2 separate regions of the Homo sapiens genome follow, and region 1 is linked to region 2. The links come from fine-mapping of genetic effects on gene expression. Tissue or cell type: whole blood. Region 2 holds a variant in brackets; the other region holds the start of a gene. All regions are shown on one strand. Distances are between the middles of the regions.

Region 1 (8,105 bases), 350 kb after region 2:
ACATAGTCATCCTACTTATAAAAAAGATACATAGGCCGGTCACGGTGGCTCACACCTGTAATCCCAACACTTTGGGAGGCCGAGGAGGGTGGATCATTTGTCAGGAGTTCAAGACCAGCCTGGCCAACATGGTGAAATCCTGTCTCTACTAAAAACACAAAAATTTGCTGATGGTAGTGGTGCGTGCCTGTAATCCCAGCTACTTGGGAGACGGAGGCATGAGAATCGCTTAAACCCAGGAGGCGGAGGATGCGGTGAGCCAAGATTGCACCACTGCACTCCAGTCTGGGCAACGGAGTGAGACCCTGTCTCAAAAAATAAATAAATAAATAAATTTCTTCTTATTTAGACATGCTGACCAAGCTTTTGAGGACTTCAGTGGAGTGAGTTTGGGAAAGGTGACAGCCATAATTAATTATAACATCCACTGGCCAACATAGTAAGTGAGCTGTGTTACAAACACACAATTCTTTGGTAAAGGAGCATAGCAACTACTGCAGAAGCAAATGCCACAAACTTCATATATCTAAGTTGGGTAAAGAATCCAAACCCTTGCCAGGTCACCTGCACAATCTCAAACCCCCAAGAGAATTTTCATGTGGTGAACAGACACAACAGTTCTCCCTCTCTGCGACCCCTCTGTATGAAAAGCTGAGACCCAAACCAAACACTGGAGACACAAGGGAGTACAGAAAACAAAAGCCCTCCTATTATCCTCATGGCCCTGAGAGCTTGGAAACTAAGAGAATGTGGAATCAAGTCTTCACAACAACACTTGTGTTCTGGAATCTCAGTAAATATCCAAGATCTGGACCAGACACTAGATCTTGAAACTTGCATTCCTACCTCTAAGAGCCATGGTAACCACTAGGTCTGCAAACAGGTTTTGTAGAAACTGCTCTCCCAAATCAAAGGATTTGTCCCAATTAGTGTCAGCTCTAGATATATGGACAGGTGTTAATTCATATTGTGCTTGAAGACAATAATAATATGGGCTTACAGCCACGGCAGATGCTTAGTAACTTAAGAATAAAACTATTTTATTCACTATGTGTGTAAATAGATGACAAGCAATTATCTCATTCTCCTATCTTCCTTCCTCCTATTTCATTTTTTCTTATATATTTTTCAGGTTTAAATTTTTCTGATTTTCTAGCTTTGCATTTAATAAATAAAAGACTGAAATAAGGCAAGACTCAAAATCTGGTGTCGGAAGAGGGGTGATGAAAAAAATTCAGGATTCCTTAATATCTAGGGTGACCAGATAATTATCACCCAAACCAGGACACTTTTACATGTGAAAGGGGGTGCTTTTGATAATTAAGATAAACCAACAGGAGTAAACTGGCACTGTCACAAGCAAAGCAGGGCATCTCGTCACCTTTCTAATCTCTCATTCATATCCTGATACAAAAGGCATCCTGTGTGTAATGAAGCAACCTCTGCCTCTGTTAAATCAATCAAACTTCAAACATAGTCCTCCCTCTTTCAGGCCAGGCCTGGCTTTTGATAACAGAGCTGGAAAGGTTTTCACCCAATGCTGCCATTCCCTATCCAACACACCAAGCAAAACTGGTTCCAGTTTTTCCCAAGAAAGTAGTCAGCAATGCACAAGAATGTGGATCCAGGCCAGGCCCACAGCAAGCCCCAGGCGAGAAGCCTCTGGTTTCTCTTAAAGGAACACTTCACAACAGAGAAAGCCACCTGGTTAGAGGTTACACAGATACCAACCATATAGACTTAACAAGCATTTTGAATGCAAGATCATTTCATTGATGTGTAGGCACATATTAAAACTGGGAAGATCCCAAAAGCCACCTCTCCTGCAAAACACATTCATCTAGGAGAAAACGCCAAAGCATCTGTCCTCAACTACAGGTAACAACCTTGGTTTCTTTGCCTTTGGCTGAAATCAGTGTTGCAAAAGCCTTTTAAAAGAGTAAGAAAATATAGGTTTTTCTCCCAAGATCACATTGCCCAAGTGAAACAGAACCAGTGCTTACTTTTATTTTTTGTCTCCTGTTCAGAGGGGTCAAACATTGCTCATAATCTTCATTAAATTTAGTCCTGTGGCTGGCAAATGTTAATTTACTGGAATATTTTCCTTCACATTCATAAAGAGGGAAAACTAGCTTTGTGATCTGGTTGCAATCTACACAACACATAGATAATCCACAACAGTGGTAGGCGCAGAAAAGCTCCAGCTGGTTTATCTCAAATGTTCAGAATGATTTTGATTTCTTTACCGACACCACAGCCATTCATAAAGATTCATTGCCAAATGTTGCCCAATACCGTGATAGAGGCGATGGTGAAGCGAATGTCTTAGACTGGGAAATCATCATGGTGCCCAAACCTCAGAGTCTGCGGCCAAATGGTGGGGATTTGGAAATCACCTGTCACGGAGATGGTGAAGGAAACTGGATTCAAACTAATGAAGACTAAAGTCTTTCCAGCCAGAAGACGGTTTGAGTCCAAGGGGCCATTTATATACAAGAGCTAAGAAAGGTGCAACTGATTTTCCCCCAGAAGCAGCACGATTATTTTTAAGTTCAAAGACATTTTTGTTAATAAACTGCTTCACACAACCACATCGAAGCCAAAATGTGCCAATGAAATAATCAAAACAAATAGCTCAATTGGGACTTTTTGAATGTTCAACAAAAAGAAAAATTAAAGCTGGTTAGACTGCTGGATAGTAACGTTACAGTGTCTCCTTTAAGAGATCAAAATGTCTTTGCCACCCTCCACCCCACCCTACCCCACCTCTAATAGTGAAGTGGATAATTTCTGAAGAATACAATGACCCTTTATGCCTGGCTTCTCTAGTCTGCTAGGGATGCCATCTGTCTCCCACGCTATATAAACAATCCCCGCAGGAATCTTCTGATGACCAAACAGATTAGCAAACTCCAGATTTTCACGCCATTAATAATATCCCCATCCAGATTAGGCCTTTTATTTTAATAACTCCAAAGATAAAGTCAATAACTGATCTTTCTTTCTTTGTAGATAATGTGTGTGTCATTTTAAAGATAACCTCTTGGAACATACAGCCATCTGTTGGGAAGAGAAAGAAAAAAAGCTCTCTCAAAGCAACAGAAGAAATGAACCCTCGAGGGAATAGGAGAAATAGTAAAAAGAAAATCATATTTATAAGACAAACACATGGAGAGCTCTACTAATTACACTAAAATATTCTTCTTCTAAATGACAAACTATAGAACACTACTCCAGAAAAGACAAGTTTCACACTTTCACAAAGGTATATATATACGAAAACAGTTTGCGTGAGTCTAGGACAGTGAAAGCAGAAATCATAACCCAAAAGCTAAAGGCCCCCGAAGTTTGCATGCTGTCCACCTCTATCTGTAATGATCACAAATGTTTTCCTTCCTGAAGTTTAATATCGATTGAACCCTTGTAACTCTAATTGTGAGCTCTCTGTACTGACTCCAAAGACTTCTAACTCTAAAAGAAATGTGCCTGTAAAGATGTTCTCTAAATTAATAATAATAAACGACGAAAAGCACCCGAGCGCTGCTAATAGTGAAGACAAGGCATGAGAGAGTCAGACCTCTGCAGTCTCGCGTCCTCGGAAACGTCTACGTCTAAATCTGCAGCCCCAGTTTGCTCCAGGCCCCAAGCTCCAGCAGAGGATGTTCACGGCACATTCCCAACCAAAAAGGAAATGAAGCGTCCTCTCCCTCAACTGATGCTCAAATAGACCCCAAAGTCCCAGTTTCCCTGGAGAACCAAACCATCCAACACATCCTGGGCAGCGGAAACCGAAATGGCAAATGAATGACCGCGCCGGGGCGCAAGGGAGGAAAAACAAAGCCACCTCCCGCCGTCCGCTACCTGCGGCGAGGGCCGCGCGCTCACCTGGGCTTTGCGCCCGTCGCCACAAGCTGCGGGTGGGGACCCGGCCGCGGGGCGGGAGGGCGCCCCCAAAGTCGCCCGGACCCGCGGCCCCGGCGCCCTGCGGCCGGTCCGTGCGCGCCGAGGAGAAAGCAGGCGGCCGGGGGCGCCGCCGCGCGTTGCATGCAGCTCACGGCTGCTGCGGCCGCTGCCACGGAGCCGAGAGTCTCTGCGCTGCAGTCCCCGACCCCGAGACCGCGAGAAGCGCCCGGAGAGACGCGGCGCAGGGGCAGAGCGCGCTCGGCGCGCCCCTCAGCGGCTCTTCCCGCCGCCCTCCGCAGCGGGCTGGGTCTCGGCTCGCCTTTGTGCTGGCATCTTCCTAGCTCCCAGCGACACCCAGAGCTCTCGAGGCGGCTCCGCGCCGCCACCCACCCCCGGGTTACGCCACGGCCCCCGCGCGACCCGCCGATTGTGTCGAGTCAGCAGCGGCAGCGGGGACGCGCGAAGCCATGGCTCCCGCCCGCGCTCGGGAGGGCGCCGGGGGTCCTGCGCCTCCGGGAGGTTTGTGGCCGAGCGCGGCGCGGCCCCGAGCGGCCCCGCAGCGCCCGGCTCCCCGCCGCTCGCTCTCCAGGCGCCGACCCGCCTGCGTCGCCACCCTCTCGCCGCTCCCTGCCGCCACCTTCCTCCCGCCCGGGTGCCGGGCGTCCGCTCCAGCCGCGGTGCCCCGGTCCGCGGAGAGCGAAGAGTCCGGCCTCCTCACCTCCAGCCGCGCCGGCGCCCTTCCCGCTAGACGCTTCGGCGGCATCTGCCCGCACCGCCCTGCGGGACGCTGGGCTGGGAGCTGGCGGCACGTCGGGGACCGGTGGAAGGGAGGCGGGGGCAGAGGACAGGAGGGACAGCCAGACCTTGGCCAGCGGGACCTCCCTGAGGAAGGTGCGGAAGAACGGGGCGGGTGCGGCTGGGCGGAGGACGAGTCCCGAGGCTGCGGCGGAGCCTGAGTTGCTCTCCTTCTGCGAAGTCGAAGGACAGGAGGATTCCTAGAGGTGTCGCGGAGGGTGGAGGAGACCCTCTGAGGTCGTGCAGACAACACTGTTCCTCAACCCCACCAGAAAGCTGAATAGGGGAGTGTCATGCCTCGGTTTCCCCAACTGCAAGGGCAAGACGGTAATACTCATGTCGCACACACAGGGTGTGGTCACGATGAAAAAATGGATTATTGAAAGCGTTCCCAGATACTTTGCCTAAAGAGGGCACTAAAATTTAAAATTACTGTATTAATACTTTCGGCTTTCTGTTTACTTCTATAGCATCTTCATCAACCAGTCCCACGTAGGAGAAAAAGTAAAAATGCTAAAGTGTAAATATATTGTGTCCCTCCCCACCCACCCTTGCATCTGTCCAGATTTAGGGAAGATTTATTCAATTTTACAATTTAACTATATCCATATGGAGTAAGTCCCCAAATAATGGATAGCCATTCCTTTGGGACTTTTGAGTGTGTGCTCAATATTATCCATTTCTCCGCCTTTTCTGGTAACAGCAGTTCATTATTCCTATGGGAACTGCCCTTCCCCCTCACCCACAATGAGTCTTTGTGGCTCCAGGGTACTGACACCTCCCACCCTCAACCCCCAGAACTAGCCAGTCATCTTCCGGACCGCAGTGATCGGTTCTGGGTTGGGCATGTTGATCCAGGAACTCGGCCTAGGGCTTTGGATGTATTACTGCAGAAAAATAAGCTCTTTAAACTAGGATAACTAAATTGGAAGGATATAAGCCTACGGTAACAAGGACCAACAGTGCATGCCAATGAAGCCAACTTTGAGGGAAGAAAAGCTGCTGGTGAGAGGGTGATGTCCCACCCTCTCAGGAACCTCAGGAGGTAGATGTGTCTGCAGTGAACTCTACCCTTGAAGCCAATAAATCCTCTCTCTTTTATTTCAAGTCAGTGTCAGCTGTGTTTTGTCACATGTCTCAGAGGAGCCCTGACTTCTTAGTCCCCTGGATCTATCAGCCCAGGCATCACTGTTAGGATCCTCCACAGAATCAAAGAGCCCCACCCCACAAAAGGCCCAATTCCAGTTCTTGCTGGAAGAACAGGGATCCTAGAGGTTTGTTCCCACATGATGTTCTCCTTCACAACTTACTCAAATCCAGCAACCCCACACCTGCAATCCTTAGCTTCTTTGTGTTGATTAACCACTATGTTACATTCTAGTCAAAATGGGCCAGGTGCAGTGGCTCACACCTGTAATCATGCCTGAGGCAGGAGGATCTCTTGAAGCCAGGAGTTTAAGACCAATCTGGGCAACATAGTGAGACCCCACTAACACAGGAACAGAAAACCAAACACTGCGTTTTCTCACTCATAAGTGGGAGCTGAACAATGAGAACACATGAACACAGGGAGGAGAACATCACATCAGGGAGGAGGGGCCTATCGGGGGTTGTGGGGCTAGGGGAGGGATCTCATTAGGAGAAATACCTAATGTAGATGATGGGTTGATGGGTGCAGCAAACCACCATGGCACGTGTATACCTATGTAACAAACCTCCACGTTCTGCACATATATCCCAGAACTTAAAGTATAATACATTAAATAAAGAAAGAAATAAAAATAAAAATAGCCAGGCATGGTGGCCTGAACCTGTAATCGCAGTTACTCTGGAGGCTGAGGCAGGAAGATCAGTTGAGCCCAGGATTTCAAGACTGCAATGAGCTGTGATTGCACCACTGCACTCCAGCTTGAAGACAGAGCAAGACCCTGTCACCTTGTCAAAAAAGAAGAGGAAGAGGAAGAAGAAGGAGGAGGAGGAGGAAAAAGAAAGAAAGAAAAGAAAAACAGAAAAAGAAAGAAAAGAAAAGAGGAGGAAGGGAGGAAGGGAGGAAAGGAGGGAGAAAGAAGAACCCTAAAAATGAATAGAGGCAAAGTGAATCACTATTGCTGCCCTAGGTCTTAAAAAACATTTTTCTCTCACTTTAAAAGCAGCCCCTACTACCTTTAAAACTTTCTACATATCGACCATTAAAACCGAGACTAAGGCATCAAAGAACATTAATAGCAAAGTCATCCTAAAAATCTCAAACTTGCAAAGGTGTGTAAAGATTAGGTAGGTTCTTTCACACTGCACTCCCCGTTCGTCATCACCACCACTCTCCTTCACAAGATCTCTGACCGGGTCTCACTTATCCTCTCCTGGAGCCATTCCCTTAAAGAGAACTCAGTACTTTACAAGCTGGTCAATTCTGCATTGAAACTGGCCTGACATTAGGAAGTGATCCCTTATATTGAGTTGAAATATTTCTTCCACCTGAGAGTACTCCAAGCACTGAAGACAAACTTGTGAACCACTTGAATTGTCTCTTTTCCAAGATCTTTGCATGACCCATAAGTCATGCAGGACACATGGCAATGTGTCCTGACCCTTCATCATCCTAGGTTACTTCCTTTCTACAGATGTGCCAAGGTTTGTGACTGCTCCTTCTAAAGCATATGGCCAAAGCTAAACCCAAAGGCAGATTCCAAGAAACTTATACTCCAGCCCTCTTCCAACAACACAGAAGGAGCCTGAGAGACATGTTCATGTGGTCTTATATTTTTATAAAAGCTTCCAAAGTAAGATATTTTAATCTCAAGCGATTTGCAGTGGACTGAATGTTTGTGCTCCCCCAAATTCATGTGTTGAAATCCTAACCCCTAATGTGATGGTATTAGGAGGTGGGGCCTTTGGGAGGTGATGGAATAAATGCCCTTATAAAAGAAACCCAAGAGAGCTCTCTCACCCTCTTTCTGCCTCTTGAGGATACAAAGAAAAGATGGCAGTCTGCAACTGGAAGAGGGCCTTCCCACCCACATCACAACCACACTGGCACCCTGATCTCATTCTTCTGGCGTCCAGAACTGTGAAAAATAAATTTCTGTTGTTCATAAGCCACCCAGTCTAGGATGCTTTGTTATTGCAGCTTGAATTAAGACAAGACTGCTGTCCCTTTTCATTCTAACTTCCGTGTTGTCCTAATTCCCCTTGTTCCGAAAGAAGTGGAGTGATTGTGGACATTTGTGGGGATCTGGCTAAAGGGAAGTTGAATTGGTTAAGTGGAATACATTTATGTGGTCTGTGGGCATTAAAGTTGTGACAGTGATGTCTATTTTGACTGTGCAAAGACAGTCACTTGGGCCCTTCAGTGTTGTGACACAAAGGTAAAGGGATGGAAATTATACCACCAAGTATTAATAACTGCA
Region 2 (8,107 bases):
TGGGAGGGATGACAGCTGGCCTCTTCTAATGTGATGTGTAATAACAGTTATGTCTATTTGGGCACAACAGACACTGTGTAGGAGTCTTCCCCGCTTCATTTCCTAACCCTTATCTTGACGAGCACACTCATGGAAGAGTCATGGAAGGCGGGACATGTTTGTTTATGTTAGGTAGTAATGTTGGTAGGTGTGCTGCCTTCCCAAGGGAAGAGAAAAACTGGAGGCAGAGAAATAAGAGCCAAGGCCCAAGAGTTACTTCTGTGGAGGCTTCTGGGTAGAACAGCAAGATTCTAATTCATGTTTCTGAAACTGAACTTATTTAATAGAGGAAGCACGTTCTACCTAGCCCTGCAGGGTAGAAAATAAGATCACAGATCACAAAGGAATTGCATAAATGCAATTCCTTGTTTTTTTTCCTTGTAAAGCCTTACTTTTTCCCTTTAAGAGAAAGAGAGGTCCGGAGAGAAGAAACTGAACTAGGCTTCTGTTCTCAAAAATGATCTAAAGCTACAAGTTTTTACTAAAGGATTTCTATGTCAAGTGATTTAAAAGCCAGAGGAGACCTTTAAAAAAAAAAAAGCCCAAAGGTTTAAGTGTATGAGAACAGCACTTCCTGGCAGAAGGATTTCCTGTTTCAGGCAACCACAGCGACGTGGAGAAACATCCGCCTTGTGGCCACAGCCTATGTTCCACAGGCCACTTCTCTGTTCTACTCACCCTTCCTCCCCAACGAAGGTGACATATAGCTTATTTCTCTGCAGGTCTTTTCTGGAGTAGCCCATAATCTGATTAAAAGCATCTTCTAGTAAGTGATCTCTTCGGATAATTAACCTGTCCATAAAGAGACAATTTAGAAAATACAAATTATTACTATACTATTAAAGATAATTTACTTATCTTTCTAGAACATTTCCATTTGCCACAATTAACTAGGTAAGAAGAATGTTACTTAATATCATTGCTGTCTGCAATAAAGTACACATTTGTCTTGAACTCTTAATAGCATTAGCAAAAGTTACATGAGAGAATCATTGGTAGAGTACCCTACCTATGACCAGTGTAAACAACCGGAGAATCCTATCTAAATGGTCAAATCAGTTTATCCCAGAAAAAAAATGATCATAAAACAACACCACACACACCACACACACCGCCCCCCGCCCATACATTTTGTTTAGTAAAGCAAGAACAACTCTATGAGGCAATGTTTTAAGTCTCAATGCATGTAGACAAGGAATTCAATTATTAAGTGCCCAGCAAGATGACTGTGAGAACAAAGAGGAAAAAAAAAATTCTCAATATCCTCCAAAGCAGAGGAGTTTCCAATTGTTAATTGTTAAATTAAGTGAATCTTGACAGTCCCTAAGGGACAGATACAAATGAATGATGAGTGTGGCAGGTTAATCTACTTGTGATGATGCCAATTAAAGTCATCCTTCCATAGATATCAATTTGCTCTTAATGTAAATGGTAATGGGCAGAGAGATGATAGGGAGGCTGAATGCATGACAGCTGGATCATCCTAGACCTTTGTAAGTTAAGTGTGAGAAAAGTAAAGCTCAGAGAAGTATGGTGTTTGGGCAGGCAGATGATTTTTTAGGGCAATGAAGGTGGATTTTAATCAAGCAAGCCTTCCTGCAGGTGGGGCAGTGAGCCATGGGGCTGCTGTTGGTCTGGTCTCTGGACCGTCTCTCAGGCACCCAGGGTCACAGGGGTGCTCCAGTGGAGACCGTCCCTCCTCTGTCCTCTCTCAGTGGCAGACTGATCTCCAGTGGGGACGTGGGACAGGGGTGAAGGCAGGGAGGAGAGAAAGAAGGGTAAGTAGGGAATGGAAACAATTCTAGGCCAAACAACATGATGATGTTTCAGTTTCCCCATTTGAAAGGAGGAGATGGATGAAGAAAGGCCGAAACAACATTCATGACATGTTCTGCTGTGAAGTTTGTTTCACAGAACTGAACAGAGCTGAGCACTATTCCTACACTCAGGTCAGTTCAGGAGACAGAAACTTGCAGTGGAGGACATTGGGATAGCTTTATAGCTAATGAATATACTATGCACCAACAAAGACATACTTTTCAGAGGAAAAAAATAAATCAGCCTTTTATTTTGCCTTTATTTTTGCATGAAAAGTGGCAGTGTCTTCACTATTTGTTTTAAAATGTTAAGCTTAATCATGTTTCATTCCAGGACTATGTTTTAGATGATCCTATAATTTACAAATTCCAAAATAATTATGCCGACTAAAATGAAGGCTAGTCATCCCAAATCACAATCAATTTCCTAGAGGCCCAACTGTGCCCTCTCCTTTCACCATCTATACATTATGTGGTTTGTGTCACTTTGACTTACTTTAACTTCCCTGGGCCTTGTCCATATCCTTTAGTCTCTAACTTCCTGTAAAAGTTCCTCAGTTTGGCTTCGAAATCCCGCTTGTAAGGGGCTGGAGCCCGGGCATTGGCACGCTGGGTACCTGCAGCAAACCACAAAGAGAGGACAATCTGGATTTGTGCCTCGTCCTTATGTTCATCACATCACCATGGACAAAAGCTATCACAATCAACAAGTCAAATGAGGCAACTGTCTTAACTTCTGCATTTTTGATTTCTGCAAGTTGAAGGATATAACAAACCTCAACCAAGGTCTTAAGTGACGTCCTCTTTGTGGCATTTTGGTTGAGAATAAAAATTCTGTTTGAATAGTTACAATGGTGCCCATGTGTTTCTCAAGTATGTTCCCCTTTTCAGTCGAAACTAATATGAGTCAAACAGAGTTACTCATGTCTAGTAGTAACTGTTAGGATGAAATGTCTTTGCTTGCTGCTGAAATGATATCATGGCAATTAGACAGGAAGTTGCAATGGAAAGTACATGGTATATAAGTAAGTGGCACCAAGAGTGAGGTTTTAATCATTCACTCTAAATTCCTCACCAAAAAACTCCTCATGAAACTTTTTTTTTTTTTTTTTTTTTTTTTGAGACGGAGTCTTACTCTGTCACCCAGCAGGCTGGAGTGCAGTGGTGCAATCTTGGCTCACTGCACCCTCCGCCTCCTGGGTTCAAGTGATTCTCCTGTTTCAGCCTCCCAAATAGCTGAGATTACAGGTGCCTGCCACCATGCCCAGCTAATTTTTGTATTTTTAGTAGAGACAGGGTTTTGCCATGTTGGCCAGGCTGGTCTGGAACTCCTGACCTCAGGTGATCCACCCACCTCAGCCTCCCAAATTGCTGGGATTACAGGTGTGAGCCACCGCACCTGGCCTACAAAACTTCTTTTAGATATGCACTATCACCAAGAATGATTTTAGACACATAATTACATAAATCTCATATTGCAGGGTAAAATCTTAATATAACACATAATTGCAAAAGGCACCTGTCTCACTTGCACAAAGTGCGCACTTGCACAAAGAATAAATAATATTAATATTTATTGGATTCTTTTTTTTTTTTTGAGACGGAGTTTCGCTCTTGTTGCCCAGGCTGGAGTGCAATGGCACAATCTCAGCTCACCGCAACCTCCATCTCCCGGGTTCAAGTGATTGTCCTGCCTCAGCCTACTGAGTAGCTGGGATTGCAGGCATGTGCCACCACGCCCGACTAATTTTGTATTTTTAGTAGGGTCATGGTTTCTCCATGTTGGTCAGGCTGGTCTTGAACTCCCGACCTCAGGTAATCCACCTGCCTTGGCCTCCCAAAGTGCTGGGATTACTGGTGTGAGCCACTGCGCCAGACCATTTATTGCATTCTTAACATGTGCCAAGTACTGAGAATATCTAGATTATATAAGCATATTTTATACGTTATTCAATGGTAATTATCACTAATAATATGTAAAAGTAACATTGTTTCTCTTTCCTTTTTTTTGACACGGAGTTTTGCTCTTGTTGCCCAGGCTGGAGTGCAATGGTGTGATCTCGGCTAACCCAACCTCTGTCTCCTGAGTTCAAGCGATTCTCCTGCCTCAGCCTCCCGAGTAGCTGGGACTACAGTCTTGCACCTCCACGCCCAGCTAATTTTGTATTTTTAGCAGGGACGTGGTTTCTCCATGTTGGTCAGGCTGGTCTCGAACTCCTGACCTCAGGTGATCCGCCCACCTCGGCCTTCCAAAGTGCTGGGATTACAGGCGTGAGCCACCATGCCCAGCCAATTGTTCCTCTTTCCATAGAAAAATCTGGTTTTGTGTCACTGGGTAACACAAGCAGCAGGTTGGGATAGAAAACTGATGATGAATATGGAAATCAGACACAGAGCCATGACAAAAACACTGGATATTTCCACTAAATATTTCCCAACCAATGAAAGAAACCAGAAAACAAAAGCTGGGAAGTCTTGTTCATTACATACCATGTAAGTTCATTAAAAATGTCTCTAACAAATGAGTGAACTAAATAGTTGTTATTCATTGGGAATACTATGTTAGGTTCACCAATGGATGTCCAAAATGAGTAAGGTGGGGTTGCTGGAGTGGGTTGGGGAAACAGAAATAAAACATCAAACAATTAGAGAATAATTAAGTCCTGAACTAGGTATACAGACTAGAAAGCAGAGGAAACAAAGCTATACCCCTGGGGCTATACCTAGTCCTATAGATCCCAGTTGCTTGCCCCATAATCTTTTTTGAATATTTTAAATTAATTGCCAACATTTACAAATTAAATTTCAAATTTAAAAATTCCAGATTTTTCTCTTGAAAATTATTTGGGAAATCTTGCAATGACTGGCTTGCATTTCCTTGGGGATCCAGCGGGCAGCTGCAGCTACTCTGTTAGACGAGGCATGAGCTCACCACTTTGCGGCAGCCACTCAATGACATGGCTGCCTGCCCCCCAAGCCCCGCAAGCATTTGTTAAGATCAGTGTTACACAAAAGTAATAGTAATGTTATAAAAAAGAAATGAGTATAAGTAGAGATCAAAGTGGAAAAGGCCTTAGGGAGGAAGCTTAATTGGAACCACACCTTGCAAAAGAAGGAGAATTTATATCCTAAAGTGGAACACAGCAGCAACAGCTGGCATGAGCACTGCATGTGTGTTCAGAAGAC[A/G]CCAAGAGAACCAAGCTAGCCTAGAGTGGAGGAGGAGTGCTGGGAGTAAATGGGAAATGAAATTGATCAGAAGGGTTGGAGCCAAATTATGACAAGAATTTTTAAAACCTAGCAGAGGAGTTTGGGCATGATGCAGTGAACAGTGCCTTTATAGGTTCTTGAGCAGAAGAATAACATACAAATGGTGTTTTATTTAAGAAATTATTTTCAGAGTGTGTTGAGTAAATTAAGGGTGGGCAAGAGGAAAGAGCCCCAGTTAGGAGTTGTTGCAGTAATTGAAGCCTGAGGGGATAAGGACTAGACTGGAGTGAGTGACTCAGAGAAACATCTACAATGTGAAATATGCACTGGGAAAAGAATAGATAAGCAAGAAAGAAGAATGGGAAGCATGATGATAATATAAAGTGTATTTAAACAATAACAACAGGTCTTACTTGTTAAGCGCCTGCTGTACATTACAGATGATGCACGTTACACAGGGGATCTTGAGAAATCCTCACAAGTCTACGAAGCGGGTATTACTAGGACCATCACACACCACTTTGCAACTAAAGAAAATGAAGGTGCAGTTTCCTGTCCAAGTCATATTCCAGTGACAGTAGATTTGGGATTTGAGCCAAGTCTATCTACCTGATGCTATGAAGAGTGTGGGAAGTGATGCAGGTGGACAAGGGCATGTGAAACTTTATACATATTGACTTGGATATGACAGCTAACAAAATGCCCTAGAGACTGAAAAATACAGGGCTGGAATTGGGGTGAGAGCTCAGGGCCACACGTGTGGATGAGCTGAGTTAGTGTGTTTATGGCACTTTATGCAGTGACTGTTGCATAAGAGATCCCACGTAAGTGTTAGCTGTTGTTATCTGCATAGAGGTGAATACTAAAGACAGGGAAATGAATTGAGATTTTACTAATGAATTTGTACAAAACTGGCTATTGACCAATAATCTGTCTGGAGATCTGTTTGTATAGCTGGGCAAAGAGCTGAGTTATGTCATAAAGCAAGTGAATAAACTTGACTTTAAAGATCTGGGAAGCAGAAGAGACTCCTAGGCAGGGGTTCTCAATCTTGACTGCACATTAGAATCACTTAGGAAGCTTTTAAAAATTCCAATGTTCAGGCCACACCCAAGATGCATTACAACAAAATGTGTAAAGACCCAGAATGTGGGGTGGGACCCAGGCATGAGTGTTAAATACAACTGTCCAGATGATTCCAATGTGTAATGTGTAGCTATGGCTGAGAACCACTATTCCCTTATAAGAAGGTCAAACATCACCAGTGAAACACATGGGCAGCATCCAGGGACTAACACAGGGCAAATGTTTCCTGTGTACCGAAAGGCATAATTTGCAACACGAAGGAACATTATCTCCATGAACACAAGGCTGCTCTCCTAGATGAATGAGGGATAGGACCGTGCAGTTCAAGTCCACTCAAGGGTGGCACAATCAGTGTCAGTGCTCCAGTCTGAGAAACTGCAGACTAGAAAACCCAGACAGGGCAGAACGCAGCTGTAATGAATCAACTTTCAAGAGCAAAATCATTGATAAGAGAGAGAAAAATGAAGAACAAGGAACTGAACGAAAATCTTTTAAGACACAAAAGAAACTTTTTTTTTTTCTTTAGACGGAGTCTCACTCTGTCGCCCAGGCTGGAGTGCAGTGGCACGATCTCGGGCACTGCAAGCTCCACCTCCCGGGTTCATGCCATTCTCCTGCCTCAGCCTCCTGAGTAGCTTGGACTACAGGCGTCTGCCACCACGCCCGGCTAATTATTTTTTTGTATTTTTTTAGTAGAGACGGGGTTTCACCATGTTAGCCAGGATGATCTCGATCTCCTGACCTTGTGATCCACCCCCCTCAGCCTCCCAAAGTGGTGGGATTACAGGCATGAGCCACTGTGCCCTGCCAAGAAACATGTTTTTTTAAGAGCTGATTACTTTAAAAAACAGCACAGACACTAACTACTCCTATATAATTTGAGATGCTTAAAAGGACGTGGGAAATGCCATAATGCATTCCATCAATATCAATACAGACACAATAAAAATTAGCTCTGATTCTGTTTATACTCTAGGTAAAGGGATTTAATTATAAAAACTCTGAGACAGCAATTGTTAAATGCAAAAATTCTTTTGCTCATAGTTCCATCATGAAAGAAGTCATTTACACATTATTTCATTTTAAAATTATAGTAAATTGGCTGGGTACGGTGGCTCACGCCTGTAATCCCATCACTTTGGGAGGCTGAGGTCGGTGGATCATGAGGTCAGGAGATCGAGACCATCCTGGCCAACATGGTGAAACCCCGTCTCTACTAAAAACACAAAAATTAGCTGGGTGTGCTTGTAGTCCCAGCTACTTGGGGGGCTGAGGCAGGAGAATCACTTGAACCCAGGAGGCGGAGGTTGCAGCGAGCCGACATCGCACCACTGCACTCCAGCCTGGCAACAGAGTGAGGCTCTGTCTCAAAATAAATAAATAAATAAATAAAATTACAGTAAATTATGCTGTTGGCCTTTGTCAAATTCTTAATACAAGTGAGGTATAATTGCCAAGAAATTCCAGAGCAGGAATGATGTTACTTCCACTTTGGAAATACAAAATGTTCTTGGAAGATTGCGCTAATAAAATTGTGTGAGAACTACAAGTGAAGTTCTAGGTCATAATACTTTGTAGACAGAGGAATTTTATGGTCTTTACAGTCTTAAAGAAAATCAGGTACAAAAGATCAATGTTACATCAAATGAAGGGCTGACTTCATGGATAGTCAGCATTTTGCTAATACTGTGCAGGAAAAAATTTCAGTAACAGACACTAGGGAGTTTTTGCTTTGTCATTGCTAGGCAGGTCTAAAGAACTTCTATATTGTGTTACCCTATTTTCATATACTGTTACAAAATTGCATAATCATATACAAACTAAAGAATTCTATCTGACAAAATATTTCAGAAGACACTAGAAATAGCTTGGCATCCAACTCCCGGGCAGTCTCAGTCTTTTTTGATTCTGGGTGTGTGACCCAGAACCTGGACTGTTCTGATGACTAGCACTGGTTC

Evidence for each region. PIP is the estimated chance that this variant, and not a neighbour inherited with it, causes the effect.
Region 1: it holds the start of HECW2, and the variant in region 2 is fine-mapped to the expression of HECW2 in whole blood (INTERVAL, PIP above 0.99).

The regions. Positions count from the first base shown.
Region 1 is chr2:196,588,887-196,596,991 of GRCh38, forward strand. It overlaps HECW2 (HECT, C2 and WW domain containing E3 ubiquitin protein ligase 2), which reads right to left and starts at 4,668. Exons shown (of 29, transcript NM_001348768.2): 1 at 4,622-4,668. RefSeq lists silencers at 3,897-4,276, 4,357-4,626.
Region 2 is chr2:196,239,732-196,247,838 of GRCh38, forward strand. HECW2 (HECT, C2 and WW domain containing E3 ubiquitin protein ligase 2) reads right to left here. Exons shown (of 29, transcript NM_001348768.2): 20 at 2,353-2,473; 21 at 718-831. Among named protein-coding and RNA genes, the nearest start is that of HECW2-AS1, 16 kb to the right of the region's middle. RefSeq lists an enhancer at 1,478-1,527. The variant A/G (reference allele first, on the strand shown) is at 5,043.